Regions from separate parts of the Homo sapiens genome. Here all the other regions are linked to region 1. The links come from fine-mapping of genetic effects on gene expression. A gene starts in region 1. Each other region holds a variant in brackets. All regions are shown on one strand. Distances are between the middles of the regions. Region 1 holds the start of OPTN (optineurin). Region 2 overlaps OPTN (optineurin). Region 3 has its middle 32 kb from the start of OPTN.

Region 1 (6,620 bases):
GATGGCACATGATCCTATAGAGCAGGCTTGAGTATTTCAATGACAGAGCACGAGTGCAGTGACCTTAGCAGGCACTGTCTGTTCCACTGTGGGATGGCTCTAGTGGTCAGAAAGTCATAATGTGTCAAATGGTACCTGCCTTACACTGACTTCCCCCCAGTGGACACTGCACATAGTATAAGGTTAGGCCCTTGCCCTGGTATGGCCAAGTCTTCAAATTTGCTAATGAAGTATTCGTAGGTTCAATCCCTACATGGGATAAATGAGTTTTAAACAGTGAAAACTTGCTTTTTGACCAGAGACAAGAGTTGGCTACTGGCAAATGCTATGAAGAGTTTGGGTTCACAAGGGGGGTAAGATTCTAACATTGCATTGACTAAACCCTTCCCACCTTGGAAAAAGAACTTAGAGTATGCATCCTACTAATGGGGTAAAAGCAGCCTCGTCATTACACACTAGAAGGGATATTGTGACTTCGTATTTTAGTAATATACAGAAAATGGCAGCAGCTTTAACCTAGCTCCCCAAGGCAGGAACCTGGGAGTAAGGCTTGATTCTTCCCAGCCCCCTTTTCCCCAAGTCTAATGGGTCACCAAATGCCATCACCTCTACCTCCTAAATATTTATTTTTTCTTTTTTTTTTTAAATTAAGACTCAGTCTCACTCTGTCGCCCAGGCTAGAGTGCCGTGGCAAAATCTCAGCTCACTGCAACCTCCGCCTCCCAGGTTCAAGCAATTCTCCCACCTCAGCCTCCCAAGTAGCTGGGATTACAGGTGCATGCCACCATTCCCAGCTAATTTTTGTATTTTTAGTAGAGACAGGGTTTTGCCACGTTGGCCAGGCTGGTCTTGAACTCCTGATCTCAAGTGATCCACCCACCTCGGCCTCCCTAAGTGCTGGGATTACAGGCATGAGCCACCATGCCTGGCCCTTCTAAGTGTTTCTAAAATCCACTGCCTCCTCTCCATCCCCACAGGCTTAGTTCAGGCCCTTATCTTGTCTGTACCACAGCCATGTTGACCTCCACAAAGGACAGGGGTTCTGCCTATTTTGTCCACTGCTGTATCCCCAGGACTGAGAACATTACTTGCCACATAGAAGGCAGGACTCGGTAAATATCTGTTGAATACATTTTAACAGCCTCCTAAATGACTGGCTTTCAGCCCTGTCAATTTCAGTCCTCTTGCCCTCATGGTTTCTTTTGCAATATGAGGTCATTCCCCTGAGTCCACCCTTCCCATACACGACAGACTTTCAGTTTCTTAACAAGACAAACGTGGCCTTTCAGGGCCCAGGCCCAACTGACCCACCAGAGTCACCTCCTGCCACCAAAACACTCGTACCCAAGGCACGTTAAAGAGCTCACGGTTCCCTGCATTCTTCTGTCTCTGCGTCCTTGCCTCCCTTCTGCCCTCTGCCCGAAATGTCTGGCTCCCCTTGTGTCCTGGCAAACTTCCACTGGACAGATCAATGTCCAGCTTAAATATGATGTCCTGTGTCATATGAACTGTTCCCTACTCCGAGCACCCAAGAACACTCTGCATTTCCACCTCCTCCGCCCATTCTGAAATTACTGCTATCGTCTGCCCGTCTATTTTCTCTCCATGTTATTCTTACTAGAGACTGGCACATAGCAGGCTTGCAGTAAATGTTGGTTGAAATGAAATGAAAATATAGCATAATGAGGTATTTTTAAGTCTAATACCTGTAAAATGCTTTCTGCTGTGTAGGTGACAAACTCAGCATGCCAGTATTGTTAGGAGTTTCTCCACAGTTCCACGGCATTCACTTCCAGATTCTCAAAATCCTCCTTTCTAACTTATTTGAAAAATTAGAAGTGTTTTCTGTCACTGCAAAGCCATCTGGGTATCACTTCATAACACAGATTCTAATGCTCCTCATACACATGTCAAAGTGGAAATAACAAAAACTTTTAATTTTTTCTTTCTAAATGAAATATTTTTTTAAAAAAAAGTTTAATTTTTTTCTTTTTCCTTTGGGTTTTCTATTTCATAAATTCCAAAGAACATATATCAAATATGCCAAATCTCTATAAAACAGAAGGTGTATTTCATGGCCAGAATACTTATGCGCCTCTACCTAAGTAAGGGCGGGGGTTCGGCAGGACATAATACAGTGTCCAGTTGCCCTCGAGAATAAAGTTTGGTTTTCCGGGGGTGGGTGGGGGGGTGGGGGGGTGGAGGTTAGGTTAGTTATATTCCTAGCATAATATGCAACCTAAAGGTTAGTTTATAAAAAAAGAAGCTGTTACTTTTATTGTGTTGTACGTAATATATAAAGAACGCCTAAAATTGGCCCAGTGGAAAAACAGATGAATTATGCCAGGACTTAAATCAATGATCGTCCTCTGTCTACAGGTCACATTTAAACTTGCCTTGTCCACTCCAGGGCAATCCCTGGCCTTGGGGTCTGCCCTGGGACTTCTCCAGCCCCCGCCCCAAAACTGGGCCTGTCCTGGGAGGCAGCCTGGCACCACTAACTCTTCTCTCCCTGGGTCAAAAGAGCAAGGTGGGTTCTTCTGTTCACACAGCCTGCACCTTGCTAACCAGATCCAAAGGCTTCTGAGGTCCTCACATTGCCTTACTTTTCTATGCTTTCATTTTCCATTTCATCCTTACAAACAGTTCCTTGGTGTACATTTCCATACAACAGTTTTCCTGCTGGTGGAGGCCAGGTCGGAACCTGGGTTTCATTTTCTTTGAGCGATGTTTACTTCCTGTAGCTTATGCATTTCGATGGCAAAAACAATTCCTTTGGGGTTCTCGGCCTCATCAAATATTCTCTCTATATAGAGTGTACACACTCTCCTAGACACAGCAGTCTATGTGGATTCCCACCGACCCTGGGCACCTCATTCAGCTCGGGTAGTGGTCCCATGTCTCCCACAGGCGTGTCTGTAACCACCTCCTTATGGCGAGGAACTGGCTGCGGAATCCTTCCCAGCCTGCGGGAGGACGTCACCTCCAAGTCTCTGGGTGACTTGTAGAGGGGTTACCTGCGGCCAAGAGGCCGGCCCTGGACCCTTCTTGGGCCCACCCTGTGTTCACTACCCACCCTCTCCCACCAGGTCAGGACCCGCCGAGGCTTGGGGATCCTCCCAGGGCAGCCGTCTCGCGGGAGGGCCGCCCCACCCCTCGCCACCCTCACCCCGACAGGCTCCGGGCCGCGGGGCAGGGCGGCGGGTACCGTTTTCAGGCCGCGGAAGCGCCCGCCGGGAAGGAGCCGCCGCCCCCTCGCCCACCGCTGCAGCCCCCTGCCCTGGCTCACCTGCCGCCCGGCTTGGCTTCGCTCAGGGTCACTGTTTCCTCGGCATCGTGCCGCCTGGAGAGAACTCCCGACCGGGATGGGACGCTGACCAGGGAACCTGCCGGCGGGCGGCGGCGGTGGCGGAGGGGGCAGCCGGGACTGGGGTGCCTAGGGCTGATGCGCGGCCTGGCGACCCCGCCCAGCGCGGCTCAGCTGACAGCCAGCCGCTCCCTGCCCGCGCCGGGGAATTTCCCGGGCCCCGCCCATCCCATACCCCGCCCATCCCCCCCACCCTGCCCATTCCATACCCCACCCGACCAAGGCCCCGCCCCTCCTCTTTCCTGCGTCCGCCCCCAGCTACCCACCCTCGCTGTCCGTGCGGGGTCGAGGCTGGGACCCGGGTGAACAGGGACTGCTCTAAGGCGTCACTGTGACGGCGTTAATCAAAATAAATCATTAATCAAATGCAGTGTGCGGAGTTCGTCTTCCCCGTGTCTTCCCGCAGATCCCGTAGTGGAGGCTGGAGCCGCAGGGGGTCGCTGCCGCCCACAGAAAGAGGAGAATGCCAGGCATCCTCGGAGGGAGGCCTCCATCTGTGTTTTTTGAAAAAAGGTTAACATCTAGACATAGTTAACTGAGCATACATAGCTTTCCACTCGTTTTTGCTTTAAAATACACTCAAAAAGCAGAAAGCCTGCAGGATGCTTCTTGGGCTCTTGTTGCGGACGAATAGGCTCGGCTATTCTTGTTGCTGAAGAATAGCCTCTGCTGGTGTGGAGGAGGGAAGCTGCCCCCGGATTAGACAGCAGGATGACAAGGTAGGAGCGAGAGCCGCCCTATGTGCATCCAGAGTACCCGGGTAGCGCTGCAGGGATGGGAGGGAGGGAAGGAGGGAGGGGGAGAGAGAGAGAGAGGGAGGGACGGAGAGAGGGAGAGAGGGAGGGAGAGAGGGAGGGAGGGAGAGAGGGAGAGAAAAAAAACAAAACAACAACAACAAAACCTAATCTGAAACAGGAAAAAGGCAGATGCGCCCTCTCCTGGTATCTCCGAAGGATTCTGCTTCGCTGTCTGGACCTCCTGCTGCCTGGCCAAGCCTGACTCTCAACCCTGCCCCTGAGGCTAACCCCAAGAGCAGGGCAGAGAAGCAAGCAAGTCAGCGACTGCCCCAGACCCAATTCCGGGCCCTCGAGTTGGTGTGGTGTAGGAGGGGCAGATGAGGCTAGAGGCTGCTTTATAAGGAGTGAGCCTGGGGGTGGGAGTGGGGAGAAATAGAGAATTTAAAAAAATTCTTTTTATATCAGTGCAGGAGGGCCAGGCGCGGTGGCTCACGCCTGTAATCCCAGCACTTTGGGAGGCCAAGGCAGGCAGATCGCAAGGTCCGGAGTTCGAGACCAGCCTGGCCAATATGGTGAAAGCCTGTCTCTACTAAAAATACAAAAATTAGCCGGGCATGATGGTACTCTCCTGTAGTCCCAGCTACTCGGGAGGCTAAGGCAGAAGAATCGCTTGAACCCGGGAGGCAGAGCTTGCAGCGAGCCGAGATCATGCCACTGCACTCCAGCCTGGGTGACAGAGTGAGACTCCGTCTCAAAAAAAAAAAAAAAAAAAAAAAATCAGTGCAGGAAATAACTGATCATTCATGAAAAGGGCTTGGAAAAATATATACAGAGAGAAATGGAATGACGATCTCTAATTTTTGTTTATCTACTGGGATAATCCAGGCAGAAAAGACGGTGTCACAGCTGTACCCTGGGATCGGCAGAAAAGGGTCCCCCCGGGGCCTGTAAGGGGTGCCTGCGGTAAGTCGTACTTCACTAGGCTCCTTTTACTGTTTAAAACCCTATAGGTGGGGCACGGTGGCTCACACCTGTAATCCCAGCACTTTGGGAGGTCAAGGCAGGAGGATCGCTTGAGCCCAGGAGGGAGAGGCTGCAATGAGCTGTGATTGCAGCACTGCACTCCAGCTTGGGTGAGAGGGAGACTTTGTCTCAAGCAAAAACAAAAACGAGAACAAAACAACACTATGAAAGTGAATTAAAATGAGCATCAGTGAAACTCAGAGCCAAGAGAAGAAGGTCACCCACAAGCTGCCCATGGCTTTGGTGTGGGAGGCTCGAGGTGAGTTTCTGGTACAGAAAGCAGTCAAAGTTGTTTTCTCCTGATTCCTTGCTCTCAGTGGTGGGGTCGGGGTGGGGGGTGCCCTGAAGCACTGCACACACACATGCACACACACTCCCCCGACAACCACTTCTTAGCTGTAGGACCTTGACCAAGTTACTTCATCTTACCCTTCCTCATTCCCTTTATCTGTAAAATGGGGAGTATAGTACACTCCCAAATCCAGAAAGTTCTAAGGACCAAACCTCTTTTCTGACCAGACCCAACTGATGGAAAGCTATTTACAGTCTTTATTTAGATCCCTTGATGTGATTTTTAAATTTGTTTTGTGAAGGAAAATCGAATAGTTGATAGGAGAACTGCGTCAGACAGTGTCAGGGTGTTATGTGATATAAATCCCATTTATTGAATAGCCTTTTGAAAATCCCCAGAATTCTGGACTCTAAAGCAGAGCTTGCCCCAAAGGTTTTATTTTATTTTTTGAGGTGGAGTCTCACTCTGTTGCCCAGGCTGGAGTGCAGTGGCATAATCTCAGCTCACTGCAATCTCCACCTCCTGGGTTTGAGTGATTCTCCTGCCTCAGCCTCCCAAGTGGCTGGGATTACAGGCGTGTGCCACCACACCAAGCTAATTTTTGCATTTTTCGTATTGATGAGGTTTCGCCATGTTGACCAGCCTGGTATTGAACTCCTGACCTCGGGTGATCCACCTGCCTCGGCCTTCCAAAGTGCTGGGATTACATGTGTGAGCCACGGTGCCCAGCCACCCAAAAATTTTAGATAAGGCCTCTGGACCCACAGCCCTCACCTAAGGATGCTGAGAAGATTAAAGAGGAAATACGTCTTCAACACCTAGAAGAACGCCTGGCTCATGGTGTTTGTTGCTGTTGCTTGTGTTAGAGCCGGTTCTGTTTCTTAGCCTGGATCATCCCGTTTGGTGACTCCATCTTCCTGCACACTTCCATGGGTAGATGGAATCTAAATGCAGCGAAAAAACTGAAATAATAGCATGCTCTTAGCTGATTTGTTGATGTGGTTTTGTGGTGGGTAAATGTAGAGCAGTGTGGGAAGGTTTTTAGTGAGATCCTAATCTGGGTTTGATGTTCCTTGTGTTCCCTTTCCACCCCAATCTCCTCTGTTTGGAGTTAGCAACGAGTCCCTTTGGGCTTCCTACCTTCAGGAGCGTTGGCTGGACTCCTGGCAACAGCTCTTAGAAGTACAGCCTTTCTTCTTGT
Region 2 (5,000 bases), 31 kb before region 1:
TGGAGGAAGACAGGAATATGCATAAGAAAAGGGCGTCTCTGTGAAGGGCATAATACAAGCAAATACAAGCTTAGGACAAGTTCAAGGGGATGATTCAGTCTGGCTAATGTCTGTAAGAGAACAGAGGGAGACACGGTTTAAAAGTGTGGCTGTAGGCCGGGTACAGTGGCTTGCGCCTGTAATCCCGGTACTTTGGGAGACCGAGACAGGCAGGTTAGTTGAGGTCAGGAGTTCGAGACCAGCCTGGCCAACACGGTGAAACCCCATCTCTATTAAAAATACAAAAATTAGCTGGGTGTGGCGGTGCACGCCTGTAATTCCAGCCACTCGGGAGGCTGTGGAAGGAGAACCGTTTGAACACAGGAAGTGGAGGTTGCAGTGAGCCGAGATCTCGCCACTGCACTCCAGCCTGGACGACACAGCGAAATTCTGTCTCAAAAAAAAAGAAAAAAAAGAAAAAGTGTGGCCGTGCCAGGCACCTTCTGGCAGGGTGAAGGGTCTGGTCTGGATTCGGTGGGTAATGGATGGAGATGGGAGTGCTGTGGTAATGAGACTGACGGGTGCTATATTTTTGGTGCCTTGATTTGGAATCCATTGTAGAGAATGAAGTGGAATTTTTCTTCAAGCATCTTTTTCATAGGATAGCTATTTCCTGAAAATCCAGGATCACACGGGACTCACCTCTTTGAACAAGGTAAGCCTGCTGGTCAGAGTCACTTGTTCTCGCCCCATGACGACTCTGCATCTCCATCAAGGACTGCCTGCCAGGACGAAAAGCAACACGCTGTGTGATGTTCTACAACCCCGAAACATGACAACACTGAGCAGACAGTCCACAGAAGTAGGGGAAAAAAGACTCAAACTACACTGCCAAGGTTCATAAAAACCAGACTAATTTTAGTTTTAAATACTATTGGCACTAGGAGACTAGTGAAAGTAAATAATTACAGTTAAAAAAAATCAGGAAATAACCAAACTGTCATCAGTAGGAAACAGATTAGAAAGAAGTGGCATATTTATAAATCAAAATACAGCAATGAAGTATAATAAATTACATCCGCACATATCAAGAGAGCTCAAAATCATAATATTATGTAAAGTAAGCTGCAGAACAATACCTACAGTGATCATTTTGTAACTTAAACACAGAGAAATCAATATTATCTGGTTTTGAGATATGATATAGGTAAGTGTGTATGTGATATGTAAAAGTATAAAATAGATGGGGAAGCTACCCACCAAATTCCTAACAGCACAAGGTAAAGAAGAAAGGAATATAATGATGGATGGGGAACAAAGGAGACTTTGATTCTAACTACAACTCCCTTTTTCCTTTAATAAAAAAAAAATACTTGAAGCAAATAAAAGCAGTTGTCAATGCAGGAAGGAGTACATAGTAGAGTCTGTTATTTTATTCTCTGAATTTTGCTGTGTTTTAAAACTTTCTCAAAATAAATTTCTAAAAGTCAGAAGTAATTTTTGTTAGTATTTTTTAAAGAATATTCAGGAATTTAAAGTGCTACGAATATTTCATCCGTGACGATGGCAAGATAGGTCATTGGGACACGTAACATTATTGTTACAAGTGCATGGTGGCATGCACTTGTAGTTCCAGCTACTCGGGAGGCTGAGGCACGAGGATCACCTGAGCTCAGGAAGTTGAGGCTGCAGTGAACCATGATCATGCCACTGCACTCCAGCCTGGGTGACAGGAGTGAGACCCTGCCTCAAAAAACAAAACAAAACAACACAACATTTTAAAATCAAATCAAAATCCTTGCTTATCTAAAAGCAAGGAGCTTGATCAAGCTCCCACAAGTCTCTGTCAAGCTTTCCTGTAAGACAAACTAAGTGTTGGGAACATGATCACATGAAGTGTAAGTGAAGCAATTATTATTATTATTATTTATTTTTCAGACAGGGGACTCGCTCTGTCACCTAGGCAGGAGTGCAGTGGCGCGAACACAGCTATTCTTATAGTTCAAATCAGGAACGTCTTTGGACAGGCACCTCTTCTACGGCCATGCTGATGTGAGCTCTGGGTCCTCCTCTCTCTTTTCCTTACCTGCCTCCGTCTTCGAAAGCATCATTCTCTTTCAGCAGAACTGCCAGCTGCAATGCCAGTTGCTCCTTTTCCTCATGAATTTTCTCTCTCGCTGCTCTTTCAGCATGAAAATCAGAACAGTAAACTTCCATCTGTTAGAGGAAAAAAAGATACAGAAGTTAGTACCTAGATGAATGCAGATTCTTACAGTGTTTATGCGATGAGGAGGTAGTGCTGTATCCTTCAATAGCCCTTGTGAATCACAGATGCACAATCCTGCTAGAAAACAGTATAATGACCATGACTTTCCAGGTACATTCCGATAGCAGATACAAGCTGTGTTTGTGTGTGTGCTTTAAACAACACAAATCCTGCAACTGCACTGATATAGGTAGTTTAAATACTGTAGGTACCATTAATTCAGCAAAATTATCTGGACTTTTAGATAATAAACAATTCAGGATCAACTTAATATAGTAAATGATTACTTAATATAGTAAATTGATTCTGCCAGGTGTATTTATGAAGGCTGGTCTTAAGCTAAATTTAAAAGAATAATCATCACAAATAGATGCTATTTGTTAAATTCCAAACATGTGTGAGGTCCTATGTTGGGTGCTTTACATTTACTATCTTATTTTACCTTATGAAATATCCTGAGAATAAAGAATGGCTATCCTCATTTTACAAACTTAACGGCTCTTAATCTTGGGAAAATTTGTTAAGTGGCCAAATCAGCATTTGAACCAGACAGAAGACCATTTCCCATGAACTTTTCCATATTCAATCCATGTCCCATGTGTGGTCACCAGCCTCCTAAGATGGCTCCAGTGATCCTTGCCTCTTGGTATTCATCACCTTGTATGTTTCCCTCCCACAATGAATAAACCCAACCTGTGTAACCTCCAGGATGCCGCAGAAGTGATGGTGTACGGCTTCTGAGACTAGGTCACAAAAGACGCTGTCACTCCTTGCTCTCTGTTGGATCACTTGCTTTGGGGGAAGCCAGCTGCCATGACATGAGGGCACCCAAGCATCCCTCTGGAGGAGACCACATGGTGAGGAACTGAGG[C/A]CTCCTGCTGACAGCCTGGGCAACATGGCAAAACCTCATCGCTACTAAAAATACAAAAAATCAGCTGGGCATGATGGCATGCACTTGTAGTTCCAGCTACTTGGGAGGCTGAGGCACGAGGATCACCTGAGCCCAGGAAATAGAGGTTGCAGTGAACCACGATCATGCGACTGCACTCCAGCCTGGGTGACAGGAGTGTGACCCTGCCTCAAAAAACAAAACAACACAACATTTTAAAAATTAAGTAATTTTTAAAAAATTATAAATAACAAAACACTTAATAGTGTTTTAATATTTAATGCTGTCAGCTAATTGAGTGAACTGTTCCATTGGTATTGGAATTTAATACTAATTTTTCACTTTCTATGTTTAAAATTAGTTTTTTCTTTTCAAATTTGCTGGTTCTGAGATATAAATTATTATCCATTATTTTAAAAGTAAAATTAAAAATCTAAATATTCTATCAAAACTATAGTTACTTAAAAGTATGTAATAAAGAGATCATTTTAAGGGATATCCTATCAATGTGAGTGGTTCAGCATCTCACAGTGTTGGCAGTGGATCATGGGTGTTTTGGAGTATGACTTAAATTCGATTTAGTCTCACTTCTATCACTTACTAGCTTTGAGCCAGTAAGAACAGAGTCTTTGTTTTGTCTATTCCTATATCCCAGGCAGTAAGAACAGTGTCTGATTTTTTTTTTTTTTTTTTTTTTTTTTTTTGAGATAGAGTCTCGCTCTGTCGCCCAGGCTGGAGTGCAGTGGCATGATCTCGGCTCACTGCAACCTCTGCCTCCCAGGTTCAAGCAATTCTCCTGCCTCAGCCTCCCGAGTAGCTGGGACTACAGGTGCCCGCCAACACGCTCGGCTAATTTTTGTATTTTTAGTAGAGACGGGGTTTCACCATATTGGCCAGGTTGGTCTCGAACTCCTGACCTTGTAATCTGCCTGCCTCGGCCTCCCAAAGTGCTGGGATTACAGGTGTGAGCCACCATGCCCGGCCGTCTCTGACATATTATAAGTGCTCAAAAAAGAAGTTATTGAATGAATGAGCAAGAGTATCCATCAAGAGAAAACAAATGTCTATGTCTAGAATGAGCAAAAATACATGACTGCAGCAGAGTGGAAGAACCCAATGACATGAGTTACCCAAGCAAGGAAATGCTCTGAAGAGCTGAGAATGCAGGTTGAGGCTCTATTCCTGTAGAAATAAAACTAAAGCTATAAGTACCAGTCAACTGGCTGCATTTCACAGGGGTCAGCCACTCTGGGCAGCTGGTGATAATGAGTCTGTATGTAGGGAATAACAAACTGCTGACATTATTATATTAAAAATAATATGTTCATCAGATTGGCCAAGGTTTTTAAAATAATGCAAGAATGTGAGGACATAGGAGTGCTTATCTTTTGGTGAGAGTATAATTTTGGTTAGGCAGTTTTAGAAGACAGCTTGGTAATATTTATTTAACTGAGAAATGGACATAACTCATGATCCAACCATTCAAATGGATGCTGGCCAGGCACGGTGGCTCACGCCCGTAATCCCAGCTGGGCAGATCATGAGGTCAACTGTTCGAGACCACCATGGCTAACGTGGTGAAACTCCATCTCTACTAAAAATACAAAAATTAGCTGAGCGTGGTGGTGTGCGCCTGTAGTCCCAGCTACTTGGGAGGCTGAGGCAGGAGAATGGCTTGAACCCGGGAGGTGGAGGTTGCAGTGAGCCAAGATCGTGCCACTGCACTCCAGCCTGGTGACAGAGCTAGACTCTGTCTCAAAAAAAAAAAAAAAGTTTGATGCTTTATAATAAGACAGCATGGTACCAGAGCAAAGATATATGAGTAGACCAATAAAATAGAACAAAATCCAGAAACAGACCCATGCA
Region 3 (6,620 bases), 32 kb after region 1:
GTCTTTTAACTGCCATTATCATCTGTCTCTGGATTCCTCAGATCCAGTTTTCTTTCCTAGGGCTTTGAGCTGAAGTTTGGAATTGAATTTGGGACAAAAATACGTCTTGAGGGGGGGTTGCGTGGACTCCTTATTATAAGCTGAATGCTGAGATGAAGCGGTGGAATTGAGTCCTCCTCCAACCAGGGAGAGAAAAGGATGTCTTGTGACACCCCTAGATCACTGGTGGCTATAGTTATGCTTGCTAAGATTTGGACGCATGGGGCTTGGCTTTGGTTAGCTCCCTTTGTCTTACTTTCCCAAAAAGGAAACCTCTGGGTGGTGGGCATCCTATTTATTTTCATCACCTGGAAGGATTTGCAGGATAACTGCTCAGAAGGAGAATACTGATCCAGATTTTTACGTCACCCATCCCTTTTGTTTTTTTCTGAGCTGCAGCCAGAGATTGCTGTTTGGTTCACAGGAACAAGCAGGGTTCGTCTAAAATGTAGGCAAAAAGTTAAAAACAATGAATGAATCTAGAACCTAATGATAAGTTTTGAAACATTATTTCTCTTTCTCTAGTCTTCATTTTTGTTAAAAACAAATCATGATAGGACTGGGTTGTTTGCAAAATAGACTTTAGTCTTATACTTGGCCCGATTATTTGCATAAAGTGCAGCAAGAATAATTATTTCCACATAGGCCTTTTAGATCGGCTTTCATGGAACTTTGTTCCACAGAGAATCTCAAATAAGACCTTTTAAAGCTGAGCCTAGTCATGGGTTTGTATCCTCAAATACCGATGAGTTGGGCAAACTCCTCTCTTCTTGAGGTTTCAAGAGATATGGTCCCTGGGTCTGTTGGAAAGTGACATTCTTTACCTACCGCAGGTTAGGAACCCTGTATGGGGACTGTGTACGAAGATATGAGGCCAGTTTCTCCCATGGGGCTTTATTGACTCTGCAAGTCAAGCTTGACTCCTTAAAGGGAAGCATACCTTTCCAGTCAAAGCCTCAGTAAAGCAACCAGGTTCTCCAATTGTGTCTTGTTGCAACCAGTTTCTCCAATTGTGTGCTGTTGCAAAAGAAAATGGATTCTTATTGCACTGATGCAAACAACTATATGGCCATAAATTAAGAATACTCACAACTAGTTTCCAAATTCTGGAGAAGCCAGGCAGAGAGACAGAGACAAATATACTCCAAATTTTGTTCACAGGAGTATACCTTACTCAATGATTAAAGGCTGTAAATAGCTCAAAATAAGTTTGCTTGACTCTGAAAAACAAAACAAGGATCAGCAATATTTCAAGCAAAAGTCAAAAGATTACCTCAGTTTTGTATTAGTTTAGACCGTTCAGTTAACTCTTGTTTTGCTTGATATTCATAAACATTTCATCTTTTCATGAGTCCTGTATGTTTTTCCTTTGGAATAATGTCACAATCTCCAAAGTTATCAGAAACCTGCATTTCAGAGCACCTGTCAAAGTTCTATAGCTGGTTATAAACCATCTGTTGAAGAGGATCAAAATAAGACAATTATCTGTAAATAACAAAATGTCCAGGGTAGTTATAGTCAGAAACATGATTGACAAATAAATTTGGTTATCTTCGTGGTTTACAATAACTTAATAACCTTAATTATGATTGATAGCGTATACTCAGACATTAGAATTTTAGACATCCCATACAATTTTGGAACATATATTAATATAATTCTCTAAAATCTAACCTGAAGATTAAACATCATTTTGGCAATCCAATGTACTTAAACATGTCAAATAATCCTGTTCACCTCTCTTTTGGATACTCCAGGGGCCCTCTGTAGCATCCAAAAAGCCAGGCATCAGGAAAGACAATTTTGAAACTGAAGTTTGATTTTGGGAAGTCTGTTATGTGTTAGAAATTTAAAACACCTGATGTTATGAAATACAATTCCAGATTGCCATAAATTATTTATTTTGCCAAAATAATGACTCAGAAATTTTAAAAAAGCAAAAAACCTTTTATAACCTTTTACAAATTTTGCTAAAGAGCAGATTAATGCCTTAAGAGTACCTTGTTGTGCTTTTATTTCAATGCTGAATTTATAGAAGACCATATAATAACCATTTGAATGTAGTTAATATGTTCACACATGGAATTTCTTTTGCAAGATTATTATTATTATTTTTTTGAGGCAGAGTTTCAGTCTTTGTTGCCCAGGCTGGAGTGCAATGGCACAATCTCGGCTCACCGCAACCTCTGCCTCCCGGGTTCAAGTGCTTCTCCTGCCTCAGCCTCCCGAGTAGCTGGGATTACAGGCATGTGCCACCACGCCCAGCTAATTTTGTATTTTTAGTGGAGATGGAGTTTCTCCATGTTGGTCAGGCTGGTCTCGAACTCCCGACCTCAGGTGATCCGCCTGCCTTGGCCTCCCAAAGTGCTGGGATTACAGGCATGAGCCACCACACCCGGCCAAGATTAATTTTTATACTCCTTTCATCATTTGATTAAACCTTCAGCTTTACCTTATCTAATTCAAAACAATCCTTCAAGCCTAGGAAAGAATTTACATTTCTACGCCTTCTTATCATCTTTTGCTAAAAACACATCTTACTGTTCTTATACACCTCACATGTAAATCTATTTCCAGTAGTTTCAGTTACATGTTATAATGGTAACTCCCAGCAATTTTTAACTTTTATGTAGAACCTAGTAAGTTGTTATAATTATGTACAAGTCGCAGCCAAGGTTTGACTCCTTCCAGCATAATTAAGGGTGTGGTTTATTCCATATGTCTGTAGGCCTCACCAGTTGTGAAGCAGGCAAGTCAAACTGTTCACAAAAACCAAAAAAGGCAGTTTATAACCTTAAAACATTTAGCAAACCTAATATCTGACCTGCATAATTTAGATCACCTATTTACATTTTGATGACATCTACATTTTACCAATAATCTTTAAGGCTGCTTTTATTCCTCGAGGATTAAAGTCATGTGAACTGAAAGGTACCACAGCTTTTATCTTCCCTTTTAAAAAATATTTGATTCAAGTGCTTATCCTCTTTTAAGTCAATGAAGTAGAGCTCTTTTTTATAGACATCACATACACGACACATATTTAACTACACAAGCAGAAGAAAATGCAGTAGCTGTGAAATTTTTCGTCTGCCAATCTCCTAATTGGATTATTGGCTTCCGGGTGTTGCCTTTTAAGAGACAGGGCCAGAAAAACATGCAGCTTTTAAGGCCTAATAAAATAGGCATGACTGGGAGGCAAAAACAGATTTTGAGAGGGATATATCTGCATTTAATTCCCGGGGTTCCATGAGAAAAACAGGTTTCTTCCCAAAACGGGGTTAGTGGCACCTTGTCTGTTTTTCCCAAGGAGTCCCATGCCCCCAGGAGTTATCTTAGGGCCTCTCATGCATACATTAAGAGTGACAAGGCAAAATGGAGAAAAATAATTCAGTCTACTGAGAAAAAGCCCTTTTCCAGCAAAGAGATCCAAGAAAACAAACAAACAAACAAAAAACGTAAAGACCTTTTAAATATACTTATAAC[TTGGATATCCA/A]CTTTTAATTAAGCTGAGTGCTCTTTGAGAAAAACCTTTTAACTGCCTTATTACCCAACTAGCCGTGCCAAGTGGCCAATATTTCTGGCTTTCAAACTTTGCTAAAGGTGATGTCCCAGGTGCTCAGAGAAAGGAAGATAAAAGGTGGTTCGTGGAGGGGAAGAGAATCAGCAACAGATCATGCAGATATCAAACCAGAAAGGACTTATTCCCTAAGCCAGGATTGAACCCGGCCGCCATTGTAAAATGGTGGAGGCTAAGACAAAACGTTGCCACGTGGTTACAGGTCATGCTCCCTAAAACAAGATGGAGGCCCGCAGCAAGGTTTGCTACTCACCATACAGAAAGTCATGCAAAGCCCACAAGACTGGCTACAGCTTAAGACCAACCTCACAAATCCTTTTTCATAATTAAAACTTTACAGAGAATATAAACAGTGATCCTTATTCCTGGCCTAGTAAAATGTCTTCAAAAAGGAAAAAAAAAACCTCTCACTTAAAAGTTAAATGCTGACAGGGTAGAGAAAAGGAAAAAATAGTTTAAAATGCAGGGTTGGAAAGATGCCTGGGGAAAATACCTCTTACTCTTATACAAATGGGTTCCTCCGACAGGGAGAGAAACTTAATTGCTGTCCACCATTGGGCACCCTTGGGCCATGGGCCATGCACCCCAACCCTGGCTGGGAGGGGAGCGGGGAACCCACCATTCGCCAGTCTATCTCGCAGGTGCCTGCAGCCATTGGGGTGAGGGGGTGTGCAGTTTCCTCTACCCTCAGAAGAAGCCCAAGGACAAAAAGGCTTGGAAGCGAAAGGGGAAAAAGATTTTTTGGTTCACATCTTACCCACCCCTCCTCAAGCCCCACACCTAGGAGCCAAAATGTTGCAGAATTTTGCTCCTTAGTTCAGCTAAAACTGGGCTCTAGCTTGTCAGAAGACCAGGAGAATTATATGTAGACACATTGAAGGGTGGGCAGAGGAGGGTTTTATTGGGCGAAAAGGGAAAAAAACAAAAAAACTCAGCAAAGTGAGGTGGCTTCCTGCTAACAAGTCCCCCACCTCACAGATTGAATCCCAGGTCACCACACAAGAACTGAAGAGCCAGGCTCCTCCCGCTGCCTGTGGCTCCACCCCGTTCCCCCAGTGCACGTGTGGGCAGGCTCAGACGAGGCCCTGGGCAGGTTCCCTCATCTGCACAAAAGCATCTGATGTCAACACTTGTGGGGTGGGTCGGAGGTTCTCTGGGGACACTGTTTTATCTGCCTAGGCATTTGGCTGTCTCATCATGGTATACAAATACTATGGGTTTTGCTGTTTGCCTTAATTCCAGTGATCTCACAACACTGGTGCCCAAAACTAAACATCTCTTTCTTCCAGGAAAATTGATTTCTTACAAAAGAATATTACAAACTGTTACAAGTTTGAGCTTAATTATAAAATCTGTGGAGAGGTGTGGTGTGTAATTCAGATTATTCCAATGAAGCAGTCAAAAAATATCTGCTAAAACATACCCTGGTAAACCAGTGGCTCTCAAATTTGTGGGCTAAAGAATCACCTGATTAGCTGAGCGTGGTGGTGCATACCTGTGGTCCCAGCTACTCAGAGGCTGAGGTGGGAGAATCACCTGAGCCCGGGAGGGCAAGGGTGCAGTGGGCCAAGATCGTACCATTGTACTCCAGTTTGGGTGATGGGAATGAGACCCTGTCTAAAAAAAAAAAATCACCTAGGGTGCTTGTTAAGCTGCAAATTCCTAGGCTCAACTCCAGATATTCTAATGAAAGGAACTGGGGATGGAGCCCAGGATTTTGCATCTCAATCATTTCAGATGATTCTGATGCAGAAGATTCAAAGACCTCTTTTAGAGAAACATTACCCTAAGCAAGGGCAGAGTTGGTCAGTTGCAGAGGTCTTCCAACTCACTTCCCACTCATTCGTTCACTCATTCTTTCCTGAACTTATTAATTCAACAAACATTTATAGTGCCCTATCATTGTACATGGTGATGTGGACTTGGTAATGTAAAGAGACTCGGTTCCTGTCTGGATGGAACTTATATCTAATGACTGATATATATATATGACATTGATGTATGATTGACAGCATCAACTGGTAAGTATTGAATGTGTCCATACATGCCAAAGAGAATGTTGCAGGGATTTAGAAGGAAGTTGTGTCAACGTGGGTTCAAGTGGGCAGGAATGGAGGAGCTATTCTGTGGAGGGGGTAGGACATTGCCTGGGCCCTGACTGTTGAGGAATGAGCAGGATATCGAAGAGAAGGAAACAGCATTAGCTTCATATCGTAATTATTAAGCAAGAACGTTCTTAATATCCATAAGCCTATACTAAAGATAGAGTGGCCAAGCATGCCCAGGATTAAAACTATAATCTCATTAACTACCTTCCAAGGAGAAATAAAGAATAAGAAGTGAGAAGTTCCTGAATCAGCAACATCATCTCCTTGTTTTTTCAATATTCTGATGCCCATTGGACCATTTTTATGCTAATAAGTTGATCAATAGTAGGATGTTTTGATGTGACGTGTTTATATGGTATTGCTTTTCTCCTAGGTCCATATCTATTTCATCCAGCTACTTCCAAAAAGTTAAAAACACTAAACATAAGATCCTTGTAGGATATAAACAATTAGCACTCTAGGAAGATTAGGACTGTTTGAAACCAAGAGAGGCAGGTTAATCTAATTAAAAATTACTTCTTATTTAACAAAGAGATCTGTATTCATTAAGACTTCTACTTAGACATACTATTTTTAGCTATATTTTGCCAATCCTATTACATGTGTGAAAAATAAATAAATCTCGGAAATCTTGGGGCTGCAAAATCACTAAGCTAAAGAGGAAAGTCAAGCTGAGAATTGCTTAGGGACAACCTGCCTCCCACTCTATTCAAAGTCATCCCTCTGCTCACCGAGATAAATGCATATCTGATTGCCTCCCTTGGGAAAAGCTGATCAGAAACTCAAAAGGATGTAACCATTTGTCTCTCATCTACCTGTGACCTAGAAGCCTTCTCCTTACTTCAGTTGTCCTGCCTTTCAGGACAGAACCAGTGTATGTCTTTTATTTATTT

Evidence for each region. PIP is the estimated chance that this variant, and not a neighbour inherited with it, causes the effect. A credible set is the group of variants that fine-mapping cannot tell apart.
Region 2: its variant is the best candidate, but not a certain one, in a credible set for the expression of OPTN in spleen (GTEx, PIP 0.58).
Region 3: its variant is the best candidate, but not a certain one, in a credible set for the expression of OPTN in aorta (GTEx, PIP 0.79).

The regions. Positions count from the first base shown.
Region 1 is chr10:13,096,972-13,103,591 of GRCh38, reverse strand. OPTN (optineurin) reads right to left here and starts at 3,429. Exons shown (of 15, transcript NM_001008212.2): 1 at 3,290-3,429. It also overlaps a transcript of CCDC3 not described here. RefSeq lists an enhancer at 2,644-2,773 and silencers at 3,054-3,623, 4,094-4,153.
Region 2 is chr10:13,129,263-13,134,262 of GRCh38, reverse strand. It overlaps OPTN (optineurin), which reads right to left. Exons shown (of 15, transcript NM_001008212.2): 13 at 2,066-2,196; 14 at 682-761. Among named protein-coding and RNA genes, the nearest start is that of MCM10, 30 kb to the left of the region's middle. The variant C/A (reference allele first, on the strand shown) is at 3,117.
Region 3 is chr10:13,064,794-13,071,413 of GRCh38, reverse strand. It overlaps a transcript of CCDC3 not described here. Among named protein-coding and RNA genes, the nearest start is that of OPTN, 32 kb to the left of the region's middle. RefSeq lists enhancers at 4,174-4,687, 4,688-5,202. The variant TTGGATATCCA/A (reference allele first, on the strand shown) is at 3,526.